6 separate regions of the Homo sapiens genome follow, and regions 2, 3, 4, 5 and 6 are each reported to be linked to region 1. Evidence: microRNA targets listed by miRTarBase, many of them from high-throughput screens and not tested one by one. Region 1 holds a microRNA gene; each other region holds the end of a gene's coding sequence.
What was found. Region 1 holds the annotated microRNA hsa-miR-190a-3p (CUAUAUAUCAAACAUAUUCCU, at 1,938-1,958, shown strand). A microRNA usually pairs through its seed, bases 2 to 8, with sites in the 3' UTR of a target mRNA and lowers its output. Matches are read on the target gene's strand: a 7mer-m8 pairs with bases 2 to 8, a 7mer-A1 pairs with bases 2 to 7 and ends in A, and an 8mer does both.

Region 2: miRTarBase lists AP1AR as a target of hsa-miR-190a-3p. Seed matches in the 3' UTR shown: 7mer-m8 at 3,914-3,920, 7mer-m8 at 3,912-3,918, 7mer-m8 at 3,910-3,916, 7mer-m8 at 3,908-3,914, 7mer-m8 at 3,906-3,912, 7mer-m8 at 3,904-3,910 and 1 more.
Region 3: miRTarBase lists LRRC63 as a target of hsa-miR-190a-3p. Seed matches in the 3' UTR shown: 7mer-m8 at 826-832, 7mer-m8 at 828-834, 7mer-m8 at 830-836, 7mer-m8 at 832-838, 7mer-m8 at 834-840, 7mer-m8 at 836-842 and 14 more.
Region 4: miRTarBase lists HERPUD2 as a target of hsa-miR-190a-3p. The part of its 3' UTR that is shown has no 7-base or 8-base seed match.
Region 5: the mRNA of ZC3H12C is a reported target of hsa-miR-190a-3p. Seed matches in the 3' UTR shown: 7mer-m8 at 3,900-3,906, 7mer-m8 at 3,898-3,904 and 7mer-A1 at 2,779-2,785.
Region 6: the mRNA of NRIP1 is a reported target of hsa-miR-190a-3p. Seed matches in the 3' UTR shown: 7mer-m8 at 3,512-3,518, 7mer-A1 at 2,030-2,036, 7mer-m8 at 1,452-1,458, 7mer-m8 at 1,450-1,456, 7mer-m8 at 1,448-1,454, 7mer-m8 at 1,446-1,452 and 11 more.

Annotation. Positions count from the first base shown.
Region 1 is chr15:62,822,071-62,827,274 of GRCh38, forward strand. MIR190A (microRNA 190a) reads left to right here and starts at 1,887; the gene lies at 1,887-1,971. The region is part of intron 54 of TLN2 (talin 2); the gene reads left to right.
Region 2 is chr4:112,267,810-112,273,013 of GRCh38, reverse strand. AP1AR (adaptor related protein complex 1 associated regulatory protein) reads right to left here. Exons shown (of 10, transcript NM_018569.6): 10 at 1-4,870. The coding sequence ends at 4,605. Among named protein-coding and RNA genes, the nearest start is that of TIFA, 15 kb to the left of the region's middle. RefSeq lists an enhancer at 1,516-1,635.
Region 3 is chr13:46,276,005-46,281,208 of GRCh38, forward strand. It overlaps LRRC63 (leucine rich repeat containing 63), which reads left to right. Exons shown (of 10, transcript NM_001282460.2): 10 at 586-1,111. The coding sequence ends at 799. LOC105370194 (a long non-coding RNA gene) reads right to left here. Exons shown (of 3, transcript XR_941946.4): 3 at 1-708. It overlaps LOC124903170 (a long non-coding RNA gene), which reads right to left and starts at 3,837. Exons shown (of 2, transcript XR_007063785.1): 1 at 3,782-3,837; 2 at 2,420-2,891.
Region 4 is chr7:35,628,912-35,634,115 of GRCh38, reverse strand. It overlaps HERPUD2 (HERPUD family member 2), which reads left to right. Exons shown (of 9, transcript NM_022373.5): 9 at 265-1,457. The coding sequence ends at 426. LOC101928421 (a long non-coding RNA gene) reads left to right here and starts at 2,491. Exons shown (of 5, transcript XR_007060285.1): 1 at 2,491-5,204.
Region 5 is chr11:110,165,049-110,170,252 of GRCh38, reverse strand. It overlaps ZC3H12C (zinc finger CCCH-type containing 12C), which reads right to left. Exons shown (of 6, transcript NM_033390.2): 6 at 1-5,204. The coding sequence ends at 4,516. Among named protein-coding and RNA genes, the nearest start is that of ZC3H12C, 74 kb to the right of the region's middle.
Region 6 is chr21:14,960,585-14,965,788 of GRCh38, forward strand. NRIP1 (nuclear receptor interacting protein 1) reads right to left here. Exons shown (of 4, transcript NM_003489.4): 4 at 651-5,204. The coding sequence ends at 4,132. Among named protein-coding and RNA genes, the nearest start is that of ASMER1, 45 kb to the left of the region's middle.

The sequences.
Region 1 (5,204 bases):
ATATTCTAAGAGCTCCTGTTTCAATGTCTTTCCCTTTGTCCTTCCGCAGGGTCCTTCTGAGCTCTTGTCTGAGTCCTGGTTTCCCCGTGTCTGGTCGTTCACTTCACGACTCCAGATGGGAAAACAAAATTATTAAAGTTCCTACCCCATAGGATTATTGTTATAATAATTAAATAAGATAGTATAAGAACACTGCCTGACATACAGTGAGACTTGGTAGATAGTAACTATATCACCATTATTATCACCATCATCACTGAAAATGTGTGTCTGGGACTTACTCCCTAGGAAATGCCTGAAATAAAAATTATTCCACTGGCCCCTGAAGAAAGAAAACCAGGAAGCTCGCGTTGTTCAGCTGCCAAGCCTGTGCCAGGCAGTCTTCTGGGTACTTTATGGGAGTCACTCATCTGATCCTTGGAAAAAGTCCATTAGAATCAGAAGCACCAAGAGGCGAATTACCTTGCCAGGGTCCGACCACTGTCACTCAGCTGGGAGGGCTATGTATGGCCCTGGGTGGCAGTTTCAGTCCATACCAGCCCCTGTTTCCCACCCCATTGTCAGAGAAGGCTTGTCTAGTCCCACAAAGGCCATTTGTAGTTTATGTGTGCCCTTAGAGCTACTCCTCGAAGGAATATTATGCAGCTATAATATTATGCAGCTATGAAAAATAATGGTTGCTAGGACTGTGTAGCACGAAGAAAATGCTCATGGTATAACAGAAAGGATGCAGAATTATGTACTTATTATGATTACAACTCTAAAAACTCACAGATGAAGAAAATAAGTAGGGAATGTACAAGAATGATGATGGAATTGGGATGATGGAAGGGTCTGTGTTTTAACATTTTATAAAACAAAGGTTTAAAAAATAACAGCACCTTAAAAATTAATGACTGCTGAAGTAGGCCTGTGAGGACTCCCTACAGTACTCTAGGATCATATAGCCTTTGTGTTTACATTGAGGGTTTTTACAGGAAAGCCAAGGAGTCCTTCGGCCAAGGTCAAGGTTAACATAACTGATGATGTGAATCCTTTGTTTGAGGGTTCCTACCTTAGCTCACTCCCATCGTATTAGGAAGGGTGATGGGTACTTCTAGAATGCTTCACAATGGTCTGAAGTCTTTCTCTGCCTGATGGCCAGAGGTGGATATTATCTATGAAACTGTTTTGGAAAACCTGCAACCCAAACCATAGTTTTTGTGCCTAATAGGGCACATTGCAATAACTTTTGCATGAAATATCTTCCTTGCCTTTATAAAGGAATTTATTTCCCCAATTAAAAAACAATAACAACAATCTGCACCAAAATCAGCCAGTCTTTTGAGTTGAATCACTTCTCTCCATTCTCTCCCAAAACCTTAAAAAAATCCTCAGGGTACTGTCAGTAAACAATTGCTTATTACATCCCTATAACCCTACCCTGGTACACACACATGCCTTCAGTATAAAATGGATGTGTGTTCCTTCTGGGGAGTATTCACACTGCTTTCAGGAAGAGTTTGGGGAGAGACAGTAATTTTGTCTAAAATGCTCTGCTCACCACCGTCTCAGGTTGCCTGTTTTTAAAGGAGAATGGCTCATGGTCTTTGATGATGATTCTGGTACATTTCCACCTCAGGCTCTTAAAACTTAAGCATCACTTTTTGCCTGGGATCTCCCAGACATGCACCGTTGAATCTGCTGTTCACCTGGGGAGATGAGAATGTCAGTGAGCGCTGGTGCATGTGCTGACAGTATTGTTAATGGCGCCGTTTCCACATCTGCAGGCAGACTTGTGCTCCAAAGACAGTTATCGGAGTTGCTGCAAAAGTGACCACCCCCTGCAGCCGTAACCTTCAATACTGTGCCTAGTCTCGAGCTCAGTCAAACCTGGATGCCTTTTCTGCAGGCCTCTGTGTGATATGTTTGATATATTAGGTTGTTATTTAATCCAACTATATATCAAACATATTCCTACAGTGTCTTGCCCTGTCTCCGGGGGTTCCTAATAAAGTTTATAAGGCAACAGGAAAGAACACGTTAAAATCACAAGTAGATTTAGAAGATGGAGCACTCATTACAATTCATGTTATCTTCCATTTCTTCTTATAGCATTTGAGACCTGTATCAGTATTACTGGATTACTTGCTTATTATAGAAACAATAAGTGTTGATGTTTCATAAGAGCCTGGGGTATTCTGTGTGGCTTAGTTTTGTGCAGTGATGAATCCTTAAGGAATTCAATATGCTTGGTGGAAAAAACGGTTCCAACCCATGTCTGTGACACAGAATAAAGGTCAGGATTATAGCCTCAAACACATCTAGATTCATGTTTCATTTTGGTTCATTTTTATCCTGATCTTCAATTTAGAAGTTCATGTCAGGGTTTCAGCAAAAATTCAAGGAGCACAGATCAGTTTTCTATGACTTCCCTTTCCACTCACAGTAACAGAATGTATAAAGCAAATCCTCCATACCAGCTGCATGGATACTGAGTCAGTGAGCTTTGTACAAACCTTGGATATAGGACTAAATATATCTCATGAAGGTAATATAATGTTGACTGAACTCTTGAATTTCCTGTTATAGGTTAACTTGTCAGTGGAGGTTGGTAATATTTAGAATAAGCCAACAATCGGAAAGTAATATCATAGCCTAATTGACTGTGGCAGGAAGTTTGGGATTATGATATAGAAAACATTTTTTCTGGTACATAACAGCCTTCTTTGGTTGGTTTTGACCTCTTCCTTATAGAAAAGCCTGTGAAGTATGTGTGAGTTCATTCTGAGTTCTCTCAACAAACAAAATACTTTGTGAGCACTGCTTTCTGGAAAGAGAACTACTGTTCTCAATGTTTTGGAGGAGAAAAGGTGTAAGCAAATGGTTTAAACAGGTAGTCATGAAAGCTTCCCCTTACTGTGTCTAGAAGTCATTGCCACATTGCTTACAGGTGAATGCATAGTGACAGGGTCACCAACAGCAACATCAGAGAGGTGATGACACAGGAGAGGGTCCTGTAATGTTGGAGTCCTGGCTTCTGGAGTTACATAATGGATCCTGTCTCTGGAATCCTTCTCCATTGAGAAGCGATCTGTGTGTGTTGGCAGGTGCTCTGTCAGGCGGGTTTCAAGATGCTGCCCCAATCAGTCCCTCCTTCACACAGCTAGAGAACACCGGCTTTGGTTTTGAGTCCAGTTACATTGTTTGACTGAAATGGCAAATGGCCATGGAAAAGAGACAGCAAGTTATTACGAACAAAGAAAAACATGGTTTCAAAAGGACCTGCAGACGAAGCCCAGTTGTTTGAATTGATGTGATTTTCTTGTTTCTTTGGGTGACTTTGTCACTGACCAGCATGTTCTCTGTAGTGATTAATATGGTGAAGGGAAAAAGGAACCAACTGTTCAGGAAGGAGGAGGACAAATACAGCATTTTCTGTATGGCTGCACTTGGGCTTTGAGTGGCACTCATTGGTTCCAGACCAGGAGCATACAGGGTGTGAAAAGCAAGTATGGGGCCGGGCATGGTGGCTCACACCTGTAATCCCAGCAGTTTGGGAGGCCAAGGTGGGCGGATCATTTGAGGTCAGGAGTTCGAGACCAGCCTGACCAACAGCTGGGTTTCACCCAGTCTCTACTAAAAATACAATATATATATAAATATAAATATATATAAAAATATATTTTTATATATATTAAATATAATTATAATTATATATTATATAATATATTATATATTATAATATATATTATATATTATATTATAATATATATTATAATATATAATATATATAAATATATTATATATATATATATTTATATATATATATAATAAGTCAGGCATGGTGGTGCACGCCTGTAGTCCCAGCTACTCAGGAGGCTGAGAATCGATTGAACTTGGGAGGCGGAGGTTGCCGTGAGCCGGGATCGTGCCACTGCACTCCAGCCTGGGTGACAGAGTGAGACTCGGTCTCAAAAACATAAATAAATAAGAAAAGCAAGTATGGGAGACTCCCCTCCAGGGTAGACCAGTAGGTCCTTGTCAGATCCTTCACAGACACAGAAAGGGGGCTTAAGATGTAGGGAGTTTATCTGATACAGCTTGGGAAGAACCCTGTTATCTTTTGTCTGTGCTTTCTATATCGACATTCAAGGGCCCCTTAAACAGAAATAGTGATTAAAAGATTATTTCAGTGGCGTTGCTTTCCATTTTGAACACAAAAGTAAAGCAATGGATACTATGGGAAAACTACTCCCAAGATACTAATCATGCAGGTGCGGACCTTTTCCAGCAGACACTGCATGAACTCGCGCGTATTCCTCGGATGCGGAGGGTGTGGTCCCTCCCCAGTCACAGGCACAGCCATTTGGCAGTTTCTCTGCCACCCATTTTGCCTGTTTAAGGTCTCTCTGGAGCTTTCCCTGAGACAAGGCCAGCTGTCCATGCCTGGCTCTTAGCAGTTCCAGTTGTTCTGGGAGGTGTACCTTTTGTTTGAACTAATAAAGGTGGCAGTCCTGAAGCCACCCCATCCATGGGTCCTCCAGAGGAGAAGCTGATCTAACCTTTGCACAGTTTGGGGCTTTGCATACAGGCTAAGGCCTCCCTCAAGGCACCTCTCAGTTCAATACCAGAAGCAAACTAGTAGCAGCCAAACTTGCAACAACAAAAAAAAAAGAGAAATGTGGCTGCCTGCTCCACTCCGGCTTCCAACTGGCAGGAAAATGCCTCACTCCTGTTGTGGGAGTTCTAGACACTGGCCTCCTTTTTTCCCTCAAGGACATTTAAATTAAATGCAAAATGTTCACACTTTAAAAAATATATATCCAAGAGGGTTTTTTTAAAGTTTCTGATGCACTATGACCTTATTTTTAGTAGCAGGCATTCTGCAAGACTCTGAGTAACACAGAGCAAAGCCTGAGACCCCACTGGAAAGATGACACGGGTGGTTCTTCAGTTTGTGGAGCCAGTTGTGAGAAGGGCGACCATTGTGTTTTTAGCTCTCAACAAAGCATTCCCTCAAAGTAAGTTTTCAGGGAGGGAGGCAAGCCCTTTGGCCATCTCCTATGCATGCCTTATGCTCCTTCACCTTCAAGTTCATTGGCGGAAGGAGCTGTGGGGTTGCAGGGCATAAGAAAAGGCCAAGAAAAAGACCATGGGAGGACATTCTCTTCCCCTGCCCAACACTTGCCCAGGACCTGACAAGGACAGTGAGCAGGGGAAGT
Region 2 (5,204 bases), not on the chromosome of region 1:
TCAGACAATTAACCAGAAATACCAAATAAATGAAGATGGGAAAACACTACATATTTAACATAAAATCTTTTTTAGATGTCTGTATTCTCAAGAAATTATGATTAGGACATGTTTACATAGTTAAACGAAACCTCTGGCCTCTGCTAGAAAAATATATTTATCTATTGAAAAAAAAGCGGGCATAATTCCAAAATATATCATTTCAAAAGTTCTAGTGTTACCAGTGGTGAGTATGGGCACGCTCCATAGTCCTTGATCTTTGTCTTCTTGGGAGAAAGAATTCAGCCAAGAGACAGAATTATATTTAAGGCAGAAACAAGAGTTTATTGAAGCAAAAAAAAGTACACTTGGATGGAACGAAGGGGGACGTCAAAAGATTGAGTACCCAGCTTGACCTTTGTCTTAGGGCTCTTAGAGATTTATTATTTCCTATTTTTTTCCCCATCTCTTCCCTCCCTGTATGTGCAGTGGTTTGCCAGTATCTGGAAGGGCCTTTTGGTGATTGAAGTTATGCACATGCTCTCTTAGGGCAATTTTCCCTTACTGGGCTAGCACTCCCGGCCAAGCCCCATGGGAAGGTCATATATTTGTCAAACTCTGTCATTTTGCCCCTTACTGCGCATGTCTGGTCATGCCCCCAGAGGAAGGCCAAACTCTGCCATCTTAAATTCTTATTGGGAAGTTGTTGCCCATGAGCTCAAGATGTCTCCTGTTAGATTTTCCCTTCCCTGTCACCAGCCCTCACAGTCTTTGTGGCGCTGTCCTGCCCTGTTCATATCTGCCTATCTACTCTAAAGCTAGTATCTTTTAAATAAAAACCCTTCTATAACTCCACATCCCCTTCCAGCTACCCCATTTCTCTGCTCTCTTTTCAAATTGTCTGCATTAGCTGTTCTTTATTCTTCATCCCCAACTCCCCAGTTTCCATCCCTTCATTTGTGTAACTGTCTCCAAATGCAACTAAAGCAGCGGACCTCTTTTCAAAGCATTTGCTATTGTTGAGCCCTCTTATTTCCTGGCTCCTGTGACACTATTCTCTGGTTCCTGCATTCCTCCTGTATCTGTTTCTTTTGACGACTGTTTCACTACCCCCAACTTCTAAATGTCAACACTTAGTGGGGCTTTTCTGCCTATGTGCTCCCCTGGGGTGAACTCAGCTGGTTTAATGACTTAAAATACCATTTTCCTACTAATGACTCCCAAACTTGAACCTAGACCTCTTTCTTGGGCTGCAGACATATATCCCATCACCTACTTGACATCTTCATCCAAATATCTTATGAACACCTCAAAGTTAACTTTTCAAATAGAACTCTTTCATTTTCCCCACTTTCCCAAACCTGTTCCTCCCATTACACTGAAGTCAAATCAGAACCAAGAAGTTATAGTTAAGGGCACTTGCAGCTACTAGGCTGGCTGTCAGACATCTATAGATTTGGCCAGTAGGGAGACAATGAGTCCAAATAGATTGAGACAGTTTATTATTTACACAGACAGCAAAAGCAGTATCAGGATGGAGTCAGCTCCCTGTATACCTGGTCCTTAGGGACATCCCTGGATGACACTGAACCAAGGGGACAAGATGACAGATGACAAGTAGAAATAGCTCTGTTGAGGAGCCAACTCTAAACTATAGCTAAACATTTTTATAGTCGGTATCTGCACCTGAATGAGAGTGAGGTCACTGGAAACCAGCTGGATGAGAAATTGCCTCACGGCAGCCTTTTGCAAGACAGGGAGGTATTTTGCAAGATAAATGGCCCTTTGACAGCTCCTTTACGATGGCCTATCTTGCCATGGAGGATCCAGAGAGGATCACGATGTTTTCTACCAAGACCTGTGTCAGACTGTGGTTGAGTTTTGCCTACGTGGACTATGTGCAGTGAGCAAGGTAGCCACGGCACCATGCCAGATGTGTTACCCCTACAGTAGTATCTGATTCTACCCCTTCCTTTAGTCTTATATCCAACCCATCAGAAAATCCTGATGATTCTACCTCTAAAACAAATCTGCTCTGCCTTTTCACAGCCATTGTAAACCCAAGGCACACTATATTCCATTGGGAGTGCTATATATCCACTCTTGCCTTCTTACAATCCATTCTCTACACAGCAACTAAAGCAATCGTTTGAAAATGTGTATATGATGACTGTACATCCTTGCTTACAAAAAATTTCAGTGGCTTTCTATTACACATCAAATAAAACTCATTCTTGGTCTACAAGGTCTTGCATCATCTGGCCCTTAACTACCACTCCAGTATCATCTCATACCACTCTTCCCCCTCACTCATGATGCTTCATTCCCAGTGGTCTTTTTATTCACAGAACATAACAAACTCTTTCCCACCTCAGGTACTTTGTACTTGCCGTTCCCTTTGCTTATAACATGCTTCATACCAGGTTTTACTTGACTGTTTCCTGCTTAACAATTAGGTTTTAGCCAAGTAAACAATTAACAAGTTAACAACTAAAACTTAAAACAATTAAGTTTTAGCCAAGCTATCTCCTCAGAGAGGATTGTCCTGACCTATGAGAAGTAGTCAATTGGCCCCCAGTTACTCTCTCTCCTATAATCTTGTATATTTTCTAACTGTGACCTGTGATTTTCTTGCATGTATGTTTACTTATTATTGTCTCTCTCTCTCACCAGAATGGTAAGCAAAGAGCAGAGACCTTATATGTCTTTGTACTTCTATGTCCCTAACACCCACCAGACACAGTTCCAATAATATTAAATACTATTCCAATATTTGCTGAATAAGTTATTTCTAGTACTTTTTATAAACACAAAACAAAACGTTAACTTTTTTTTAACAGTTAAAACACATTTTCTAGTTCCATCTTGCTTTCTTAATTTACTTTTGTCTTCACATCAGATTTAATAAAATAATTACAAGTCAGGAATCAGAATACCTGCATGTTTATGGAGTAAAACCAATAATAGTCAAATAACTTATTACCTTTAAGTGTAAAAATGTGTTTATTCACAACCATTTGTAAATTACCATTTGTTACCATTCCTTCAAAAAATTCTTTATGAACAAAAAGCCAAGAAAAATTACAATCGTAGCTTATGCCAAACCAAAAATATACATCTGATGTATACAAACTTTAAAAAGCATTAACACAGGCAATGTGAATATAGATTACCTTAAAAATATTTCCAAGACACAGCTACAACTTAAATTATGTTAAGACAGATATAAATAATAGCATTACCTAATGTATTATATTTACATATTTAAAGTATCATATTAATTTCTATGACATAAAAAAGGAGATAAAACTACAGATGTCATTGCTTAGCAGTTCAAATATTGAAAGGGCCACATGATTTTTTTTTTTAAGCACAGCAAGAACTTTAGGTTACTATTTATATCTGGACCTTCCTATATTTATAAGAACATGCACCGTCATTGTTGCAAGAGGAAAAAAAATTAAAAACATTAAGGAAAAACCAAAAAACAGTTTGCTTACTAAAATCATACCAAATCCTCAGCAAAATCAAGGAAAGCAATTATGGAGTGTTTTCTATCCCTGGCCTTGTAAATTGACATATACATTTTAGAGAAAAGAACAGTAATTGTCTAGCACAAAATGCAGTTATAGATATTGATATGCTTAGTTCTATCCCATTAAAGCACCTTGTACTACAAGGTAAAGGAAGGCTTAATAAAATCAATGGAGCCTTTCATACCAGAAAGGATTTTATTTGAAATACCCGTATTACCTTTTTAGATTTTCTTTTCTGAAATCATGCAGAGAATATGTTCTGTGTAAAATCTAACATCGTTCATTGGAAATATAGAATTTTTTAAAAATAATGGCACCTAAAAACTTAATACTGTATATCAATTAAAGTCAATATAGTGGCATGTAAAATGAAGTGGAAAAAACTAAATATATATATATATATATCTTCTTAAATATTATTTTTTATTATTACCAACTTGAAATGTCCAAACTCTGAAGGGTTATTTTTATATTATCTTTTGTTCAGATTGAATCAACATTATCATACTAGGACATGTAAATAAACACATGTAATGCCGATACTTCAGCATTTCTTAGAGTCATCTACCCACATCAACTGTACTTACTATTAGATAATAAAATCCAAAGAAGTCATAGAAATAAATAATGCTGGAAACGGGAACACTATTCTAAATCTGAATCTGACGATCCCTCCTCATGCTTCCTTCACATCGGCTGAGAATTAACAAAAAAGTCTTAATATTTTCATAGTTAGACAATGAAATAGGCTTCATAAATCATTCAAAGTAAAATTAATTTTAAAAATTGAAAGTGGAAATCTACCATAGTAAACAGAAATGCTATAAAGACAAGACAAAGTAAATTTAATCAGTAACATGACAGGACCATTAAATTGGTCTTGAAAAGCAGAAGGCAGATGATGAAATTGCACTTAATTCTGTATCAATTCAGATCCTATCATCCCTACTCCTTTGTAATAAAATAAGCATTTACAACATGGTTTCTTACACATCTCCCTTACAAAAAGGCTAAGCACAATCACTTATACATTCTAGTTGGTTTTTAACATTTGGTCATAACTGATAAACAAGGTCACACAATTTTACCCTATCGAGTCTGTTGATCTGTGTCAGAATGCCTTATGCCAGAATCAGACAGTTCTAATACAGGATTTACAAATCCAGAATACTCGGAATTTCCATTATCATCCATTTCGGCACTAACAAAATCATTTTCCCACTCCAGCCCATTGGAATCATCAGAGGCTGATGTAGGATTACTTCCAGTCTTCTTGTTGCTATACTTAAGTGCTGCCCGTAGAATGTCTTCCTCTGTTTTGGAACGTTCTCTCATTGGAAGCATTCTATTCATTCCTATGATTTGAACAGAGTTTTCAAAAATCTCAGAACAGATAATAAAGCTATATTTAAAAACTCCCAAATTTAGCAATGTAGTTTTTATTTAACTATCAGACTTGATGTGTGAATTAACTTAAAGACCCAGTCCCATGGAGGCCTTCTTAAGGGAAATTGTTGGGTTCTAACCCTGAAGTATGCCTCAGATAAAAATAAATATTAACAGTCACCAAAGGGCAGTTTTGATGCATCGATTATCCGATAAGATGAAATTCCTGAAGACTCATAAATAAAACAGAATGGATGGAGGATTTCAACTGCTGTTAGTCTCATATAGCCAAGTTAGTATGTC
Region 3 (5,204 bases), not on the chromosome of region 1:
CGATTACTAGGGAGATTGAAAAGCTTTACCTGTGTTCTCTTGACATTCATTTTTTCTTCTTCTGTGAATAGTCTATTCCTGTACTAATGTTAATGTACTAATGGATTAATATTTTTTAACTGATTTCTAACCATTTAAAAATACATTATGGACTCTAATTCCATACTAGGTTATGATAGTACCTTTATTTTTTTAAATGATATATTTATTTTGTATCATAAAAAATAACATGTTTATTATAAAAAATTAGAAAATAAAGAAACACATTATAAAGAAACATAAAACCCCTGTGATCACATTTCCCAAGAATAATAACTATTTTCAATTTGGGATCTATCATTAGAGTTTTTTCTTGTTATGCATATATACCTTTCTGTTTTAAAAAGCTAGGATTGTATTATACATATACCTACTTTATTGTTCAGCTTTTTTAGCGTTTAGTCTTTCACTTAATGGGTAGCACTCACCTAGCTGGTAAGCTCAATGAAGGTAAGGGCAGTATTTTATACTATTTGGAGTCTTGCATAGCACAGAGTCTTTAGTAAAAATTTATTAAATATTGACTTGCTGTTTCCTCCATTTCAGCACATCCAGGTGTGAATGGTGTCATGGTCCCAAGTTTGGTGAAGGTTTTCGTGTCATCCGATCCTGTGATATTTTTGGAGCATCACAGCTTCCAGTTATGTTTTATGTCTGTTCTCCTTCTTGCTATAGAAGAATAAAGGAAAGCAGTTTTGTTTTAGATGGTAGTCCTAGTAGAAGAATAGCTCTAGATGTGGAGTTGTCAAAAGAATTATAGTACAATGATTTATCGTATGTGTGTGTATATATATATATATATATATATTTATATATATATATATTTATATATATATATTCATATATATATATAAACTTTACTGGCTTTTACTGCATATATATCTGCATATAGTAATTCATCTCTTTGAAAGTAGAGGTTCTGTTTGGAAGACATAAGTGTCTTCTCATACGAATTATCTTTGTAATTCTAGCTCCTTATGAAAGTTTGTGATTGTTTGGGAATTGTTGCAGAATAATTACTCAAGGAGGATTAGTAAAGCCTTTAGATTTGAATAAAGCTCTAGAAAATTTCTTTCAGAGCCTGTTTACTATAAAAGGAAAAATGTTGGAATCCTTTGCAAAATGGGTTATGTCTTACAACTGGTCTTTTCATGCATCCATACTAAGTGATGAGATAGCATTGCAGAGTCATCAGTGGGGTATGTGCTGCATAGAGCTTCAATGTCACACATCCAAGTGCTCAATGCTTGTGCATTTCTGTGGAAATCTGACCAGCACCTTCCATCTCAATTGTAGGTTGTTTTGGGGAATAAAAGATTAATTCTATCCCCATTTGTTTGTTTAAATTAATGTCCCAGGTTCTTAGAGAACTGGTACAGTCTTTAATTGTTACCTTGAACTTCATGTCCTAAAGCTGAGCAACTGGACATTAGTCTGATTCCATAGGCTAGCACCAGCATCTACCAAGGCCTACAGTGATAGCCTGACACAAAAATAAAATACAGCTTACAAAATAACATTGCAAAGCAGCATATACATATAGTAAAACTTACTTTAAGAATTAACGTTTGGTAAGAGAAAGATAAAAGGGCATTTTGATATACAAACAACTTTAGAATGGCATAGAATTGTTTCACATATCTTTACACACAGTTCACTTAAATCTCAAATATCATTGCTAAATTTAGTGATATGAAATGATTTACACAGCTATCATCATTAATGTCAGAAAATATACATTGTCATGTTTGTGTGTATCTTTTAGTGATATCATTTAAATAAAGATAAATCAGGCAGAATAATTTTTCTATTGATTTCAATAAATTGCAATGCTTACACGCTTTTCCTTGAGACTCTGTTTCATTTTTCAGCAGAATCAGGTAAACTTTACTTTGCTTGATAAGTATACACTATATTCTCCAGCATAAGAATAAAATTATTTATAATGAGAGAAGTAACTACCATATTACACATGCATGCAGAAAGGGATATTTATAGTATGATAAATTAATTCATTAAAATGTAATATACTCATAATTAGAAAACAAGATGAAGAAAATAATACTAACTCCCTGTGGCATATAGTTTATTAATACTCACCCTTGTTCCTGAAATATTTCTTGGGGAAGAAATATGTTTATTTATTTATTCAAAACATGTTGGGTTTTGGTTTAACTGAGTAATTTCTCAATGAAATAGGAAATAAAAAAGAATAGCTTTCAAGGGAAATGACAAATTCTGAGGGACGTTTCAAAACTAAATATACCTAGATACTTAGACAAATATGAAATATACTTAGAACCCAATCTCTTCATGCTTAGTATAAACCTTGAATCTGAGTGATCTCTTATAGATCTTCCAAAAAAAGTAACTTACAGTATTTTTTAATGAAAGTAAGACATATTTATTATAGAAATATTAGAAAATACAACTAAACCTAAGAAGAAAACAAAATCCTCCTTGTAATGCCTCTGTAACTCAGGTTCAGTCATCCACTGCTTGCAGAGTCTGAATAACAAGAGCAAGGTCTGGTGGGAAAAAAAAAGTGACTTAATTCAAGAGCTACCCGAGGGGAAGTAGTACAGGCTCCTGCCCTGAGATACCACTTCAGCCTTCAGGGCAGAAGGCAAGGGCTTTTAAAGGGGGGATGGGGAGGAGGGGAGGAGGTGCGGGGTCTGTGTGACTTGCTTCAGATGTCTTATCTATCATGTGGTCTGGCTGGCGCCATGGCAGGCAGCTACGTTGTAAATTGAGGCAATCTCTTAGTGGGTGAGAGTTCCAGAGGGGCCTGATTTGCTTCAAGTTTTGGTCTCTGCAACTTCTAAGTAAACACATAGATAAGCTTGCCATACCTGATGGAGAGAAGGTAAAGGTTATAATTGCATTCCTAAAGAGCTAAGTAGGAAGCGGGGGAAAAGGAAAAAGAAAAAAAAATCATTTTTTTCCTTTTAAAAATGGGGTACTCGGCTACACCATCAACCAATGAAAGTCAGAGGCAATCATTTCAACATGTGTATGTGTGCATACATTTGTGTAATACATATGTGTAATACATTTATATAATGTATTACTTTTTTTAAAAATGGGATTATCTGCCTCACACCACAACAAAGATTAATTTCCAATTTTAGGCCTAAAGGTCTAAGTTGAAATATAAAAATAAATAGCTATGGTCTTTAAAAAATCAGATTTAGATTTTTTTAAAAGCGGGTAATGAAACCTCAAAGAAAAGATGAACAAATTTACCATGTAAAAAATTTTTAAATGTCTGTCGAGCAAAAATAACCAAAAATAAAGACAAGCAGCACACTGGGGAACATATCTATACTATATATGACCAGAAAGAATGAGGTTTTCAACAACAACAACAACAAAAAATATATATATATGTTGTGCATGTGTCTCCTGGCACAACTCATTCAGGACTCAAACTGTGTCATCAAGGCATTATCTAGTTTTCTGTCTATCTAATCTAGCTCACTCTATCTATTTATCTATCTATCTATCTATCTATCATCTATCTCTTACCAATACTTTCTAAAAATTTTGTCTCATATCCAGGTAATATGGATGGTCACTAATCATTCCAGGTTCATGTACAAGAATCTCAGGAACCTCAGAGGAAAACACACTGTCTATCCCAACTGTTACTGTAAAATACATTAGGGATGATTTTCATTGGCTCAGCCTGGGTCACAAATCCAAATACAAACAAATCATTAAAGCTTCATGGATGGCATACCCTGGCCAGGCCTGAGTCACATGCCCATCTCTGGAACTGGGTAAGGCAGAATTAGCCCCTCCCAAAACATACTAATTAGATTCTCCACAAGAAAGGAGAATTCTAGAACTGAAAACTAGGGGAAGAAAAAGTGTTTTGGACAGCTAAAATCTGGAACTGTCAGAGACCTCTAAAACATCCTGACATCCAATAAGCTGTTACAAGTAGCAATAACAACAAAAGATGACCTTAATATAGCTATAACAATCAACATTTAATTTTTGTTTTTTACCATAATAAGTCTAATAATTTTCTGCTAAAAAATACTTGTGCGTATGTCTAAAAATATATTCAAGTATACTTACCACCAGGATATTTACAATAGTGAAAAACTGGAAACATTCAAAGAGTTCATCAATATGTATGTAAATCCATACAAGGCACTATCATTCAGTCATTTAAAAATTAGATAACTGTTTCCTTAAATGGAAAGATATCTACCAACTAGTTTTTGAAAAATATTTACTAGGTAACATAGTCACATAACTCAAAAGGTACAAAAAAGTGTATAGGATAAAAATTCTTTCTTTAACCCTGATGCCTGGCATCCTTTTCCCTTCTCAGAGACAACCAATGATATCAATCATTTTGTATTCCAGGATAGCTTATGCATATGTATGCTAACATATACATATATTTCTTCCTTATCTGTATAATATTAGCATAATATATACTCCTTTCTGCATCTTTCCATTCAAATTATGTCATAGAGGTTATTCCAGATCAGTACATTATTAGTTTATGTTCTTTCTTTATGGTTTCATATTATTCCATTGGGCAAACATATATAGCTTATTTCACCAGTTTACTACTTGATGGACTTTTAACTTTTTAACCTCTTGCTTGGAAAAAAATGTTGTGATGAATAAGTTTGTATGTTTACATATATCTGTGGTATAATTTCCTGGAAGTAAATTGCTGGGTCAAAAGGTATGTTCATTTATATTTAATTGGGAGTTGGGAAAAATATGTATTTATTTGCTTTTTAAATAGGTAATACTAGCATACTTTACCCAGCTCAAAAAAGATTTAAGAGTGAAAAGTCTATTTCACATTAATTTCCTTCAGATGCCCACATATTGTTAACCAGCTTCTTGCATTTACTTAAACACTAAGTACCTATAAGGATGCAGCTGTATATAGAAGAATTTTCCTTATTCCAGTAGTGCTTTTTTTTGTATTATATAATTTAAGAACAGCATTAGCGTCATTCATACACTTGTTAAAAATATGGATTCTCAGACCTACCTCCAACCTACTAAATCAAAATCTCTGGGAATACTATCCAGGAATCTTAATTACTACCCGGTCTCCAGGTGACTCTAATGCTTGCTGAGCTTGAGAATCACTGTTCTCCAGAGGTCAGAACGCTCACACCAAAGTG
Region 4 (5,204 bases), not on the chromosome of region 1:
TAAATGGGAAGAAGTAACTTTTTTTTTCTTGAAAATAGCCTAGAAATAAAATTATACACATGGTAAGAATTTATTGTATTGCATTGGCAGTTGTCCCCTTTACGGAACAGTGAGGAATTTATCAATTTTGGCCTTAAAGATTTCTAATGACCACATACATACCACTTCATAGTCCTTTGTTCTACAAAGAATTTAACTGTATTCTATTATGAGCTAATGCTCGTTCATATCACTCAGGAGTATCTTTCTTGTTTTGCTTGAAAGGAGCGTCTTATGGATGATGGGCTTGAAGATGAGAGTGGAGAAGATGGAGGTGAAGATGCCAGTGCAATTCAAAGGCCTGGATTAATGGCTTCAGCTTGGTCTTTCATCACCACCTTCTTTACTTCACTAATACCAGAGGGGCCTCCCCAGGTTGCCAATTGACCTGAAAAACTGTGCCAGCTACAAGGAGGGTCTGACTTCAGGAAAGTGGTTTAAATAACAGTGCAATTTCAAAAAAATTTATAACTTTCTTTTGATCATCATGTACAGAGGTGTTTTTTTTCTTTAGGCTTCTCATGCATATGAATATTTTAAGCACGAATGGACTACTAAATATCTGAGTTTTTTTTTTTTTTTTTTAAAGATCCTAACAGAACATAGCGTAACAATATTGGTCTTCCAGGTGTTACTCATTTCAATTATGTGTAGTATACCAGGACAGACCTATTTTCATGTCTTATTTCTTTAAAGAGCTGCTTCATTGGCCGGGCGCCATGGCTCACGTCTGTAATCCCAGCACTTTGGGAGGCCGAGGCGGGTGGGTTACTTGAGGTCAGGAGTTCGAGACCAGCCTGGCAAACATGGCGAAACCCCATCTTAACTAAAAATACAAAAAAATTAGCCGGGTGTGGTGTCACGCGCCTGTAATCCCAGCTACTTGGGGGGCTCAGGCAGGAGAATTGCCTGAACCCAGGAGGCGGAGGTTGCAGTGAGCTGAGATTGGGCCACTGCACTCCACCCTGGGCGACAGAGTGAGACTCGGTCTCAGAAAAAAAAAAAAAAGAGCTGCTTCACATATAAATGTCTATAGCTAGTAGCCTGGCCCTTTAATGTTTAATTTGAATAGATATATCTGTTTTCCGTGAATTATCTTGAAAGTTTTAAACAGAATGACCTCATAGTTTTTAATAAAGAATATTATTTACCTAAAATGTGCTAGTAGCATCTTGCCCAGCCATAAAGCAATAAACTTCTCAATAATCTTAATTTTGATATTTGAATAAATAATGGAAACTTTCTGTATTAAGGGCATGTATCCCATCAATTGGAATCAGTACCTTAACAGAAAAAGGCAGCTCTTCAATGGAATTAACGTGATATAAAATGTTTGATATAGGCAGTACTTTTATAAAAAAAGATAAGCTGGAAATTGCTCCGTGTAATTTTTTAAATAAAAAGTCAATTATGGTAAACAGTTTTATGGGATATTTGTTCAAACTCTTCACCCATTACATGCAAACATTTATGTAAATTTTAGTAGTTGTTTGGAAGGGTTGCTGAAGTCTTAAAGGTCATTTACACCTCTTTCCATTCCAGATGGATATCTCCTAGTTAGATTGAAACCTCATTAGTTTATTTAAAAATCCCTGTGAAAGCCAATTTAATGTATCATGAGAAGGCAGTAAGTTTCTTATGGGATAGCTAAATAAAACAAATATGTGTGGGAGAACTTTATATCACATGAAATACATTATAAAATTATGAATGTGGTAGTGGCCCAGGGGAAAAAATATATATATATGATTATATATATATGATTATATATATGATTTATATATGATTATATATATATGATTATATATATGATTTATATATGATTATATAAAAATTTGTATATTTTTATATAATTATATATAATTATAATATATATTTATATATATAATTTGTATATATTTATATATAATTTATATATTATATATAATTATATATTATATTTATATATTTACATATAAATATAAATATATAATATATATTATATAATTATATATATTTATATGTAAATATAAATATAAAAATATATAATTATATATAAATATATATTATACAATTATATATATAAATATAAAAATATATAAATATATATTATATAATTTATATATATTTATATATAATTTATATATTTATATATTTATATATAATTTATATATTTATATATTATATAATTTATATATTTATATATAATTTATATATTTATATATTTATATATAATTTATATATTTATATATTTATATATAATTTTTATATATAATTTATATATAATATATATATATAATTTATATATTTATATATAATTTATATATATAATTTATATATTTATATAATTTATATATATAATTTATATATTTATATAATTTATATATATAATTTATATATTTTTATATAATTTATATATTTATATATATTTATATATATAATTTATTTATATATATTTATATATTTATATATATAATTTATATATTTATATATATTTATATATGATTAGATAACAGTAGAAGATTAAGAAAACATCAATAAATTATTTTCTGATTTGTTTACTTACAATGATAAAAGTGACATTATCAGGGATGACTGCTTAGTTAAGCGTTTGAAAAGTAAAGTTAGATTTCTATTTATAAATTTCAAGACATGATTGAATATGAACAATCAAATCGTGGAAATACTAAGAAAATGTGGGTGAATATATAACATTGGAGTGAGAGAACACTTTTATGGCAGAATCTTTAAAGATTGCTGAGTATATAATGTTTTGACATAAGTAATTTAAAGGCAAATAATTAGAGCACAAAAGATAGAAAAGGTAATAAATGAAGTCTTAAATTCATTCCAGTAAAAAATAATTTGTATCCAGTAAAAAAAAAAAAAAAGCACTCCAATAGGAAATGGGTAATAAAGATGAAAAAAGGTAGTATCCAGTAGTTAAAACTACCATATTCTTAAGATGATATTTAGTGTTGGTGAAACTGTAGGGGAATGTAAAACAGAATATAGCCTTTCCAGCAAGTATCAGATTTTCAAAATGTGCACAGATCATTCACTGTCATCCTCTTATTCCTAGAATACAAATCAGACTAATGAACATGGCTTACAAAATCCTGAAAGGTTGTGCTCTCGCCTCCTGTCAGTTTGAGCTCCTCCTTAATTCCTGGTTTAGCTAGGCTGCTCTTCCAATTCCTGCACCTTCCAGCCCCGGACTTTTTAAATTGCTGTTCTTTTTGCTGCAAACACACACAGTTTCTTCCTTCTTTGCCTCACTAGCACTAATGACTCATCAGATCTCAGCATAATTGCCAATTCTTTGGGAGGCTTTTCCCTGGAAGCACAGTTTATTACTTTGCCTTTAACACTGTTGCAGTTTACATTTATTTCCTTGTTTCTCTCACCATATAGAAGGGATGAAGTTGGGGAGAACCTGGTATTTAGTTCAGTCCTGGATGAGTGCCAGCAGAAGTTTGAAAGGATGTCATGCATGTGTGAGATTTAGCTTTCCAGATATTCATTGCATTGTTGGTTACTAGGAAAAAAATCAGAATTAGCAGATGTTCAGCAGAGTGAGCTATGGCCACATTTGAACACTGTTTGGGTCCATGATTAGGGATGGCTTATTTCAAGACTGATGTAATTATTGCATCCAGAAGAAAGGTCTGGATTTTAACCTGGGAGCTAAATAGATAAACTATCAAAGCTGGCAGAAATGCCCCATGGGTCAGAGCCTAAAGCCAGGTACAGGGTGGGGAGAGGATGCAGAGTTAATTGTGAGACTGATCAGTTTCATTTCTGTTGGAAGTTGGAGAGAAGATAATTGGAGCTGTAGATCTCACTGGGGGTGGGCAGCATTGTGGGGACACCCCTCTGGAGGAAATGAGCAAGTCCCTGCCTCCTAGCAGCAGGGTGGGGCCTAAGGAGAAAGGTCCTGGTTATAAACTCCTGTGAAGGGATGTCACAGGTTCTAAGAACACTGAAATGCGTGAGCCACTGTTATTTTTCCTACATTGTTAATTCCCTTCTGTTAGCCTCACATTCATTAAGTCTTTGTCAAGAACTACAGCCCAATGTGAGCTGTGTTTTGGATGATTCAGGGAGGGACTGTGTCCATACTGGGGCCAGATGGTACCTAGGTGGCTGGGGTAATCCAAACACTGGTCTCAAGGCCAGATTGTGACTAGTAACAACCAGGATATATGTTTCTGGAATATAAACACTTCTAGGACTTCTTACATTATTATACATTACCATAAAGACTAGACCTACAGTGAGAGGGTCAGATTTATGTTAGATAGGTAAAAGAAAAGGGTGATCTGGAGGGCTGGAGAATTGGAGACATTCACATCATACTTTGGTGACATAATTAGATGCCACAGCTCACCAGTATTGTAACTATTTTCCTTGGCTCTTTCTACCATCGCTATTGAAATTAGGCTTTTCAAATTAGTGGCAGGAAAGGCCATATTTGGAGCTTCAAATACACAGTCCCAGTGGCAGTTCTTGCCTCTGTGTTTTTTTGTTGTTGTTGTTTGCTTGTTTGTTTTGAGACGGAGTCTCACTCTATCGCCCAGGCTGGAGTGCAGTGGCACTATTTCGGCTCACTGCAACCTCTGCCTCAGCCTCCCAAGTAGCTGGGATTACAAGCGCCTGCCAACACGCCCAGCTAATTTTTGTATTTTTAATAGAGATGGGGTTTCACCATTTTGGCCAGGCTGGTCCTGAACTCCTGACCTCCTGATCCACCTGCCTCGGCCTCCCAAAGTGCTGGGATTACAGGCGTGAGCCACTGCGTCCGGCCTTGCCTCACCGTTAAAAGACTACAATATGACGTGATACATCAGCTTTTTCGAAGTCCAGTGTACGTCAGACCCTGAGGCCTGCAGTATCTGGAATGGTGTTGCTGGATGTGCAAAACTGCCAGGCTCTGGCTTGTGGTGTTCTCATCTACCAGATCATTCCTGGGAGGCCCAATTTGGCCAGCTGGCTCACCTCTGCCGGTGGTATTGCTAGCATTGCACATTGGAACTGCAGCTTGGGAAAGTGATAGAAACCAAACACATGGTGGGTACAAAGCAAGTTTGTTGTATTTTATCCACATTAGTATTTTGGATGTTTCAATATTTAAACATTTCAAAAAGCAAAATCAATGATAATACTTCTTGAATGTGTTGTGAACA
Region 5 (5,204 bases), not on the chromosome of region 1:
TATGAAAGAAATTCAATACATATTAAAACATTTTAACAGAGTGCTTTTTTTTGTGGTTAAACACAAGAAATATCTCTAATAAATAATGGGTGTAAACAGGTAAGAAAACTCAAATGAATTAAGATGCTTTAACATCAATGTCTAACAATCCTCTTTTGAAGGACATCAAAAACTACCAGATTTTCTTTTAATGTCAACTGAAATGCAATTATGATTTCTTCTATTAACATATACCAGGATTTACTGCTTGAGATCAGCAAATTATGGCCCACAGGCCCAATCTGACCGGCTTCCCGTTTCTGTAAATAAAGTTTTATTGGAACACAGCCACACTAATTTACATGTTATCTGTGGCTGTTCTTATGCTCTAAAGGCAGAGCTGAGTAGTTTTTACAATGGCATTTGAAGTCCATATGATTCCTGTATTATTTACTATCTGATCCTTTACAGAAAAAGTCAACCCCTGCCCTAGGGGGCTAAGATAGTGTATGTTTCTTTACTTTTATTAACACTACTGTTTTCTCTTATTCTAATGCATGTGTGTAATCCATCTCTTTTTAATACCTCATTTTATTTGTTGGTGTATACCTTGGAAACTTAACTGTTAGCTGAATTAACATCTTTAATATATTTGGAACATAAGCATATGTCCAGCCAGAATCTGTTTGATTTCAGGTCACGTGGGAATTCTCCAGGAGTTAGATGACAATAAAATGGGTGCACCACACACCAACAGAATGGCCAGAAAACTGTATGTCTTATTTTATCTTGAATAAGGAAGTTGGAGAGCAAAAAGAATAATGAAAACCAAACATACTTTAAAGTAAATACCATTGTAAATCAGAGGGAAAACAGCTTGAGAGTTTTCAAAACACACACACACACACACACACACACACACACACACACACACCCAGAGCCATCCTCCCACCTGTCACAAACTAAGAGCTATAACATAAGCAAAGTATATTTGTTTTATAAATATATTACTGTCTATATACATATAGATACATCCATAAGACATGTTAAATAATTATTTGTATAATCAATACTACTTTAAGTTTTTTGTGTATTTTAAAATTACACATTCTATTAAAAATATCAAAATAATTCTTTGAAAATACCAAGAATAAAACCAGTGAAGAACTGCTTTCCATCCAAGTGGTTCTAAATCTTATCATTGGCCGTCCAGACCCCAGACTCGGTCGTTCACAACTCAAAGAAACATAGTTTAATTAGAGAAAAGTTAGCCATCAGAAGCACTCCCCCCAACCCCTGTTTTTAATACCTCATAACAAATACATATTTGTGTATATAGATATACATAAAATACTCTTCAGTTATATTACATATTCTCATAAATGAATTTTCATAAAAACACAAAGTTCAAGTTTCCACCAGTATCAAATATATTACACTGGTGTGCATTTCTTCCAAATGTGTAAGTCAATGACAAACTCTTATCAGGATATAGAGAGAGATCATAAAAACAAGACTGAAAACGTCTGTATCCCATGCAAGAAAGGAGGAGATACTAAGGGCCAGTATTTGGCCAATTGGGTACTATTCCCTCTGGACTAAGACACAGAGACAACAGACTGGCTAGTTACTGTGTAAAGCACAGTCAACTGTCAATTATTCAGGGGCAAAATACTCCAGTCTGAATCCTTTTTTTTCCGATCAGTTGACCATTTCTGGCAACTTCACTTATTAACACATCTCTCTGGTTATTTATTAGCAAGTCTGGTAAAAGATTTGGTTAGAGAGAAAGTTTTGGCTAAAATGAAGGCTTGTGATCAGCTATGGATTTAATTTAATGATGGACTCCTTTGACTTATTGCTTTAGATAAGTAAGAATTTGCTGTACCTAAAGTCTGCCAATTATCTCATTCTACAGCTCTGAACGCAACATCGGTGCTTCAAAAAAAGGGGACAAACTGTCCTCTTCACATAAGAAAACTGCTATTTTTAAACTCATAATTAATTACACTGAAGGATTTAGTGTGGGTAGTTCAGAGCTACTCACTTCAGTAGAGGTGGCAGCTGGCTACACTATTTTCCCATAATTTAAAATCCATGAGGCAATGACAAATAGTCAGCTAATAACACAAGAAGGTCAAATTCAAAGTGTCACACACATCTCACCTAAGATCTCATTTAAATAAATGTAAAATTTGGCGAATGTTCAAATAATTAAAATGGTAAAATGAAGAAAATGGAAGCAAAACCTACATGTATAATTTAAAAGTGATTTCATACTAAAAAGAAGTCTTAGAATATGACTAAAATAAAAGATACTACACATTTGTAACCCTGTTTTTGGCACTGAGTTAGCCTCTACATTTAAACTTGCTTTATAGTGACCAAATCAAGGAGAACAATTTCACATGCGAGTAGGGTTGCTTTCAGACAGACACCACTCAGAATGGGTTGTGTGGCCTCACCCATATTATTTCTGGATACAGATGAGTGCCACACTCATTTCAAACACAACAGCAATAATTGTGTAGAATACCACTTTCCTGAATTAAGTTTGCTGAACACGGTTCAGATTATTGGTTATGTCAATATGCACAATGCCTTTTAGAAGCATTTACTGTATACCCAAATCCTACTTCGTGCAACACACAGTGTCACACAAGTAGTGAAAATGTTATCCTAGTCAAAGGTGCTTGGACATTATTTTCAGGCAGCATTTTACCTTTATTTTAAGTTCACACTAGGTAAGTTTTAGGAGAAAGAAAATGCCAATAAATTTATTTACTGTGTTTTAATATATTATATAAAACTAAGACAGACATTTCTATTTATCTAAATTGTTATTTTTATTTTCTAATCTATTCTAGACCTCAATTTTACTTTAAAAATTTGTATTTAAATAAGGGATAAAATGTTGCCCAAAAGTCTAATCATAGTTACATACTTGTGTTTTAACTAGATCTACAAATCAAAATAGTTCTTATAGTTAAAAAGATACAATTTGTATCAACAGTAAAAGGTACTTTCTGGTTTTTCAGGGCTTCACTTCAAACTGTAGCATGTAGGATAATCAGAATAGCCAGGGCATCTAAGCAGACTACAGAAAAAGATCTGAATGCATCTGTTACGTGAAGTACAATTCAAAACCTGGACGCAACAGTCAAGTGATGTCAATCACACAACTGTCTGCCACTGACTGCAAAATCTATCTTCTACTCCGCAGAAATGTATTCACCACTAGCAAAACCCATGACTTTGAAACCAGAAATATCCCTTACTAATACTAGAACAGACCTTAGTCTGTATCTAAAACTACACTATTTGTGGCAAGAGTCTGGCCTTAATAATATAACAGGCCCCCCCAAGAAAACTACCTTCAGGAAAATGGAAAATATACAATATCTTACAAAAATTTTAAGTTACCATTTACAACTCCTCCATCACCATTTCTCTATAGTGCAGTATCAAGAAATGTTGCATAACCTCAACACATAAACCCACCTCAGGCCAGCCTTGATAAATAGCAGGAAAGCTAAAGAGTATGTTAAATATAAAAGTTGCATTGTGAATAATTAGATTCATTAAAAACAGGCAAGTGCTGTGAAAGGGTTATTTTATCCAGTATTGTTGTGCCCCAAAACAAAAAGACAGACATATTAAAAATACAGGTTAATGGAAATCTAGGAATTCAATTCCACTTCTACTGTCAAGAAGCACATCATAGCTGGATAACAAAGCTCTAACCTGTAACAGTTACAGCTTTTGCCTTATTCATTTTTAAAAAATGGAAACATTTTTCCATTGATTGCATCTGCTTTCTTTTAAATTGACCATATTAAATTAACTAATTTCTTAACAGAAAAAAAAATCCAAACAAAAATAACACATCGAAAAGTGCCATATTGTAAATCATTCTAATATATATATACTGTAACACATTTCAACATAAAACTGGTAACTTACATTCTGTTTAAAATATAAAGTCAGTGCTGTAGTATAACTTTGTTTCTATAAATAATGATTATAGCACAAAGAAGCCCACTTTCCCCAAATAAAAATAACTTAAAAAGCTGTAAAAGAGTCTAACTAAGCTTGGCTCGAAAAAACAGTTTGCTAGGTCTAGTCAAATGTCCCACATTCTGAAGGTATTGTAATTGCTTGCAATTGATAGACAAACACCAAGTTAATAAAACACAAAACAAGGATAAAAAGTGCTGCATATAAACCCCTGATGCACCAAAGATTAATATCAAAGATCACAGATACATCTATTAAATCAAACTGGAAAAATTTCCAGCCAAGGATATAGCTTTAAAAAGGAAATGTTAAAAAAAAAAAGTTTAAATGTAAAGCAATCCCGTGATACTTCCACCATGTGGGGCTATACATACAGATTCCATGATACAGTATTTCACATAAATGGATACTATATAACCTCCTTGCTGAGAAGGAGATCACATGTGCTATTGTAGCAAACCTCCCTCAGCATTTGAGCTGAACAAAAAACTACTAAACACCACAAAGATGCATCATCTTTCAATAACCCAGCTGGGATTTCTCCACTAAAATGGCTGCGGCGAGCTGCTGGGCGTCTGTCATGTGAGGATTCCTTTTCATGACAATTCTCACAAGGTCAGGGGGGAAGATGTTGCACAAATTGATATAAATCTTTTCTCGGTTGTCTTGATACCTCGGGGGATCTTGCGGCATTCCACAGTATGGGATCCGCCAGGCTGGCTCCTGTTGCTCAGGGAGGCTCTGGAAGGTGAACTGCTCATAACACGGCTGTGTGGAGTTATCGGGCAAGGAATAAGTCTGCCGGTACCCATAGGCGTCGATCCCATAGCCTGGCCTCTCCCAGCTTCCCAGGCCTTCCTGGCGGGAATAAGGCTTTCTTTGTCGTGAAGGAGAACTGTCATAAAGTCGAGAGTCAGAGATGCTGTCTATTCTCGTGGCCACCAAGGACCTCCCTAGGTGTGGTGCCTTAGAGTGTGCTGAACTTGGAGGAGAGGGGTAGTCGCCAGGACAGCTGGACCGGGCGCCCACAGCGGAGTGCGGCAGGTGCAGAGCCAGGTGCGGAAGAGGAGGCTTGTGATGGAACTTTGGTTCTTCGTGACTGTAACTTTGCCCTCTGGTTAAGGGGTCGTGGAAATTCTGCAGGAACGGTTGAGGATTAAGGCGGCTGTGAGGGTGCATGTGTTGACACTTCAAATTCTCCTCTAGCT
Region 6 (5,204 bases), not on the chromosome of region 1:
TCCTCTTTGGGAAAATGTCTTTCTCATAAATTATCATTATTTGTAAAAATAAAAATTCCTAAGCTGTTAAGTTTACCTGGGTACAAAGTTTTTTTTTTTTTCTTGGAATCCACTGGTCTCTAATACTTATTGAGTATGTATGTTGCTTATCAATTACTCATTACCTATACACATACAGCATATATTTAAACATGTAAACACGTGTATATACATACACATTCATTTTTGGAAAATTATTAAACTCCTTTTTCTTTTATTTAAAATAAACCACACCCATTAAAAACTGGATAAAAGCCTTCTGATAAAGTCTTATCCTAAAATGAAGTGTGTATGTATATACATATAGTCAACATTAATTTTGAATACTGCACAAACTATTTTCTAGTTTAAAAATTTACAGTGATCAACTAGTTACACACTGAATCATGGGAGAAAGGCCATAGGCTGATTGTCACTTTGAGTTATGCCTTAATTACCCTGTTTCTAGTGCACTAACTTGCCAGCCACCTTCTTTTTTGTCCCCTTTATTTTTCTAAGAAGGGCAAAACATCCTTGAAGATCACTGTTATATTCATAGCAATGTGTTTTACGTTTATGGAAAACCTAAAAACCAGAGAAAGCCCACAAAATAACAGTCATTTCAAACCAGAGACAATGCATTTTTTCTCATTTATTCAAATTCACTGCAGGAAGTAAACACTAAAAGATTAAAAAACAAAACAAAAAAATTCACACTGCAGTATGTACAGTTTCATGACATCACATGAAGAAATTAAATTTCTAATAAAAATGGCAAATTATATTACTGAGCAGATCGCATCAAATTTGGTTGTGTAAACACCAGAATTCTTACTATGAATGGTAATGTGCCTATATTCCAGTATTGCTAATACTGGGATACTCTTGGAATAATGTTTGCAATGGGATTAAAAAATTCATGAAAGTAGTTGTGTGAATTCTTTATGTTTAAAAGTGGTTGACGATTAAAAAAATTCTTTAAGACCCTTCGAATCAAAGCACATTCTTTCACAAAGCTTAAACCACAGACGTCATGTCCAGAAATGGAATACTGTCATGTTAGGATGAACATCTGATCTGATTTGTTAAGACATTTTGCCAAATGCACAGATGCACAGGGTCCCCCATGCACTTTTCATGCAGCAGGTAATCACAACTTAAATAAAAGGTTTATTCTATACATTTGTCCAGACTTGCAACTGTATACATACATGCACAACTTTTAAACCTGTCTGATTATATTTACACTTATACATGGAATATACAGGAACCAAAGAGATTAAAAGGCTTTTCTGTTGCATTAGAACAATACAAAATATGTATTTTTCATTAAGGAAATCACTATTTACATCACCTTTAAAAACCGATTTTAACATCTTCATGTAACAAGTCAATATATATATATATACATATTATATATATATATATATATATATATATAAAATATATACTCTCACCAGTTTACTCTTCTGTAAGATGCAGCAGAGAATAAACAGGTAATGAATGCTACCTTACTGATGTCAATAAGCTGTAGTACCCTTTCACAAATGACTTTATTAGAAGAAATTGTCTAGATATCTAAAATAGTCCTTGAAAATGTGTATATGTGCATCCTTGTATCTACATATGCATAAACAAAGTGAATCTGTGGATGTATGCCCTTTCTCACTGTTCTTTAAAATCACCCTAAATTCAAATTGGGAACATTCTCTAGTAAATCAGAACAGCATTCTTCGTGGTCATGTTTATTTAAGTATTACATATTCTCATTCCTTTGTTAACAACAACGAAAACAACCAGCCAACCAAAAAAACAAAACAAAACCCACACACACACACACAAAAGTAGCAATGCTGGCCCTTGGTCTTTTCCCTGACCTAAATTTCACTCTCTTGTAAAAAGGTCATTTCCCCCTACCCAAGGGAGAATACCAACATATTTTTTCTGACATACCTCTAAGGCTCCAAACCTTCCACAACGATCAAGAAAAATGACTTGTTTAAAAGCTTATTTATATAGTGTTGACAATAAGATTGTCATAGTATGGACATGGAATAGAATATATTCAACTGGCCAGTGGAATTTTATGTCAGAATAAGCCTATGCCTTCACTTCTCCATGATGTTGCATAATACCCACTCCTATTACTGTATAATATTTCCAGTAGCTATTTACAAATCATTCTGAGGAAAAATAACCATTTAGGGTTTTAGATCATATTAGGAAATCACACCTATTTTTAATATAAAAATCTTAGAAACCACTTCAAGTAGAACAATTTTAAATCAATATCCTAACTAGTAGTGATTATAGAATAATTTTTGATAGGTCATTTGCTAACCTGGTTCACAATTAAGAACAAAATATCTGGTGAATGAATTGTGGATTGTACAAACTGAACATAAAAACAGACCTGTTTCGCAACTGAAACCCCATGTGGCTTCACTAATATATTAATTTCTTCTAAGACAGTATCAACATGTACTTTTCATCACTACTTTAAAGTAAAAGATCCAATGGAGTGATTGTGTACAATTCTGTCACGTATATGTGCCCTTTGTACTTTTTATTTAGTCAATCTGAGTTTAGTGCCCTTCTTGGGTTTAAACTAAATGTTGTAAGCTTTGTTGGCATTGTTCTTAGGACAATGGTTTTAATAAAGGTTAAGGATGCATTCAGGAGAAGTTTCCAAACCATCCTGGAATCACCTGAGTTTGGTAAGTGGCCCTGTTTTTCCATCCCTAAGGCTAACTAAGTAGATGTTACTCATTAGAACACACAAATAATCACAGATTTTCCTGAGATGTTGAGCCAGATATGAAAGTTATCCCCTCCACCCAATTTTTGTCATAAAAAGTGTTCTGAACCCGATTTCCAAAGACATAACGGTAATATATGAACTACAATATTGCAAATTTTGAGCTGATGTGTGACTGTATTGGGGAAAATAGAGGCATCACATAGTTTTTTGTTTTTGTTTTACAGTCTCATGTTCTGAGGAAAGTCATAAGTCATGGTTCTCAAACACAAGAAACACCTAGAGAGCATGTTAAGATGCAGATGGAAGATTCCAGGTCCACTTAGCAGAGATTCTTGTTCTGTAGATCTGAGATGCTGCCTATGAATCTGCATTTTAAAACAAGTGCTCCAGATGGTTCTAATGCAAGTGGTCTGAGTTCAGGTTTAAGGAATCCTGGTCATAACACTCGCAGGTACCACAGGAATGGTGAGAATTAACTTTTACAAGAGATGGTGAAAACTGTCCAAAGAAAAGCCATTTTGCTTCTGTTAAAAACAATTTCTTAAATATTCAACTTTTCAGGAAACCACCTAAAGATAAATGTTAACTTTTCTAATTCTGTAAAAGGAGGAGTATTAATTTAGTAAAGTAGTTAAAATACAAAAAATGGAAATCTGCCTTTTTTTTAAAGGATCTATCAAACTTCCCTCAATTGTAATCAATTTTTACTAAGTAGCACAAGGTTTAAAGAAATATATATTGAAAAGGATCAGGGTGGGACAGACACATTGGGAACCACAAAACCTCTTCCAAGAGTTAAAAATAAACACCTTTTTTTTTTCTTTTTAGCAAAAGTGAAAAATGTAAGCATATATTTTTCTAATTTATTTTTGAATTGGATAATAAGCTGTGAATCAGCACTAGGTTTTTTTTTATTGGATAATTATCCTTTAAAGAGTTGTTTAACAGTTTAGACTTTAAAAATGTGTTATGTAGGCTGACTTCTGAAAAGCAAAATAAAGTACCCTAATAAAGGCAGCAAAATGCATTAATCCACTATGAATGGAGTTTTACATTTTAATTTATGCCTAATATTTATAAAAGAATTTCATTCATAGGCTACTCACAGTTGTTATCTGATGCATACAGAAGTGTTAAACAACCAATTGCTAGTTCAGTAGTTTCCTCATGACATCTAATGTTAAGCAAAAATTAGTATGCATATTTCAACATCACCAGTAACCAATACTTTTCAAAATGAAAAAAGTTTCAATTATACCATGCTTTTTTTCAAATCATGCTCTTATTTATACAGATCTCAAGTTCATACTCATTAGTTTTAAAAAGATCCAAAACTGGATGGCAGGTACATTTTATTCTGATTCTTTCTTTATCGTTAGCACGCTTCCCAGAAGTCCATAAACTTCTCCATTTGCGCTGTGTGGGCGAGAAGCATTATTTCCCATATGGCTATTGTAAGGGCTTCTTAAATTAAAGAAAGAAGCTTTCGTTTCTGCAGTAGGAAGTAACTCTTCTTTGGCTGTGACCTGTGAGACACTTTCAGCAGATGAAGCCTCCCTCCAAATGTCCTTGTCTTGTGTTTCTCGACTGGTAACAGAATTGCCTCCTTTTTGAAGCATGTAATATAGTATTGGGTTGGTTTTGGTCAATCTTGGAGAGTCTTTTTCATACTCATTCTTCTCCGCATCAGTGATAACCCACTTAATGGGTCCTTTCTCACTGGGCATGGAACACCCATTCAAAAGCCCAGATTCTGGTCTAGACCCTGCACAGCCCAAGTGCTCAGGGAAAGTAGGACTCACAGGAGTTTTTACTACACCTGGGTATGAAAATGTCCTGTTATCCATGCAACTGCTGGGCTGAGTGGAACTGTACATCAGTCCATTTAAAGAAGAAATGCTAAATTCAGGTTTGCTGTTGGTCACATTATTTTTGTGTCCTTTCTTTTTACTGTCAGCCACAGAGTTACTTCTGTGCGGGGACAAATCTCGCACACAGTTTTCTGAGAGAAGCAGCTGTTTCAGAACATTAAAGCTTTTGCTCTCTCTGGCCCAACTCCTGTGTTCACTTTCGCTGGCTGAGCCATGACCAGCAGGATATTTAAATTCAAGATCATTTCTGCTAAATTTCAGCTCTTCCTGGTTAAGCAAGGACCCATACAGTACTTCTGGGGCACTGTGATTGTTTGCAGCATCAACAATGTTGTTTTTCATCTTTTTAAATGGATTTTCTAATGGCTCAGTATAAAGCTTCCTTTTCTTAGGGACCATGCAAAGATTCTTTGATTCTAGAAGTGCCATTTCATTATTTCTGTGACTCCTGTCTGAATCATCTGCCAGGTAACTATCTTGATTTTGTCTTAGCAATCGACTTAGCAGACCATTCTTGGAGAAAGAAAAATCCTGAGGTGAAACAGGCTCCGATT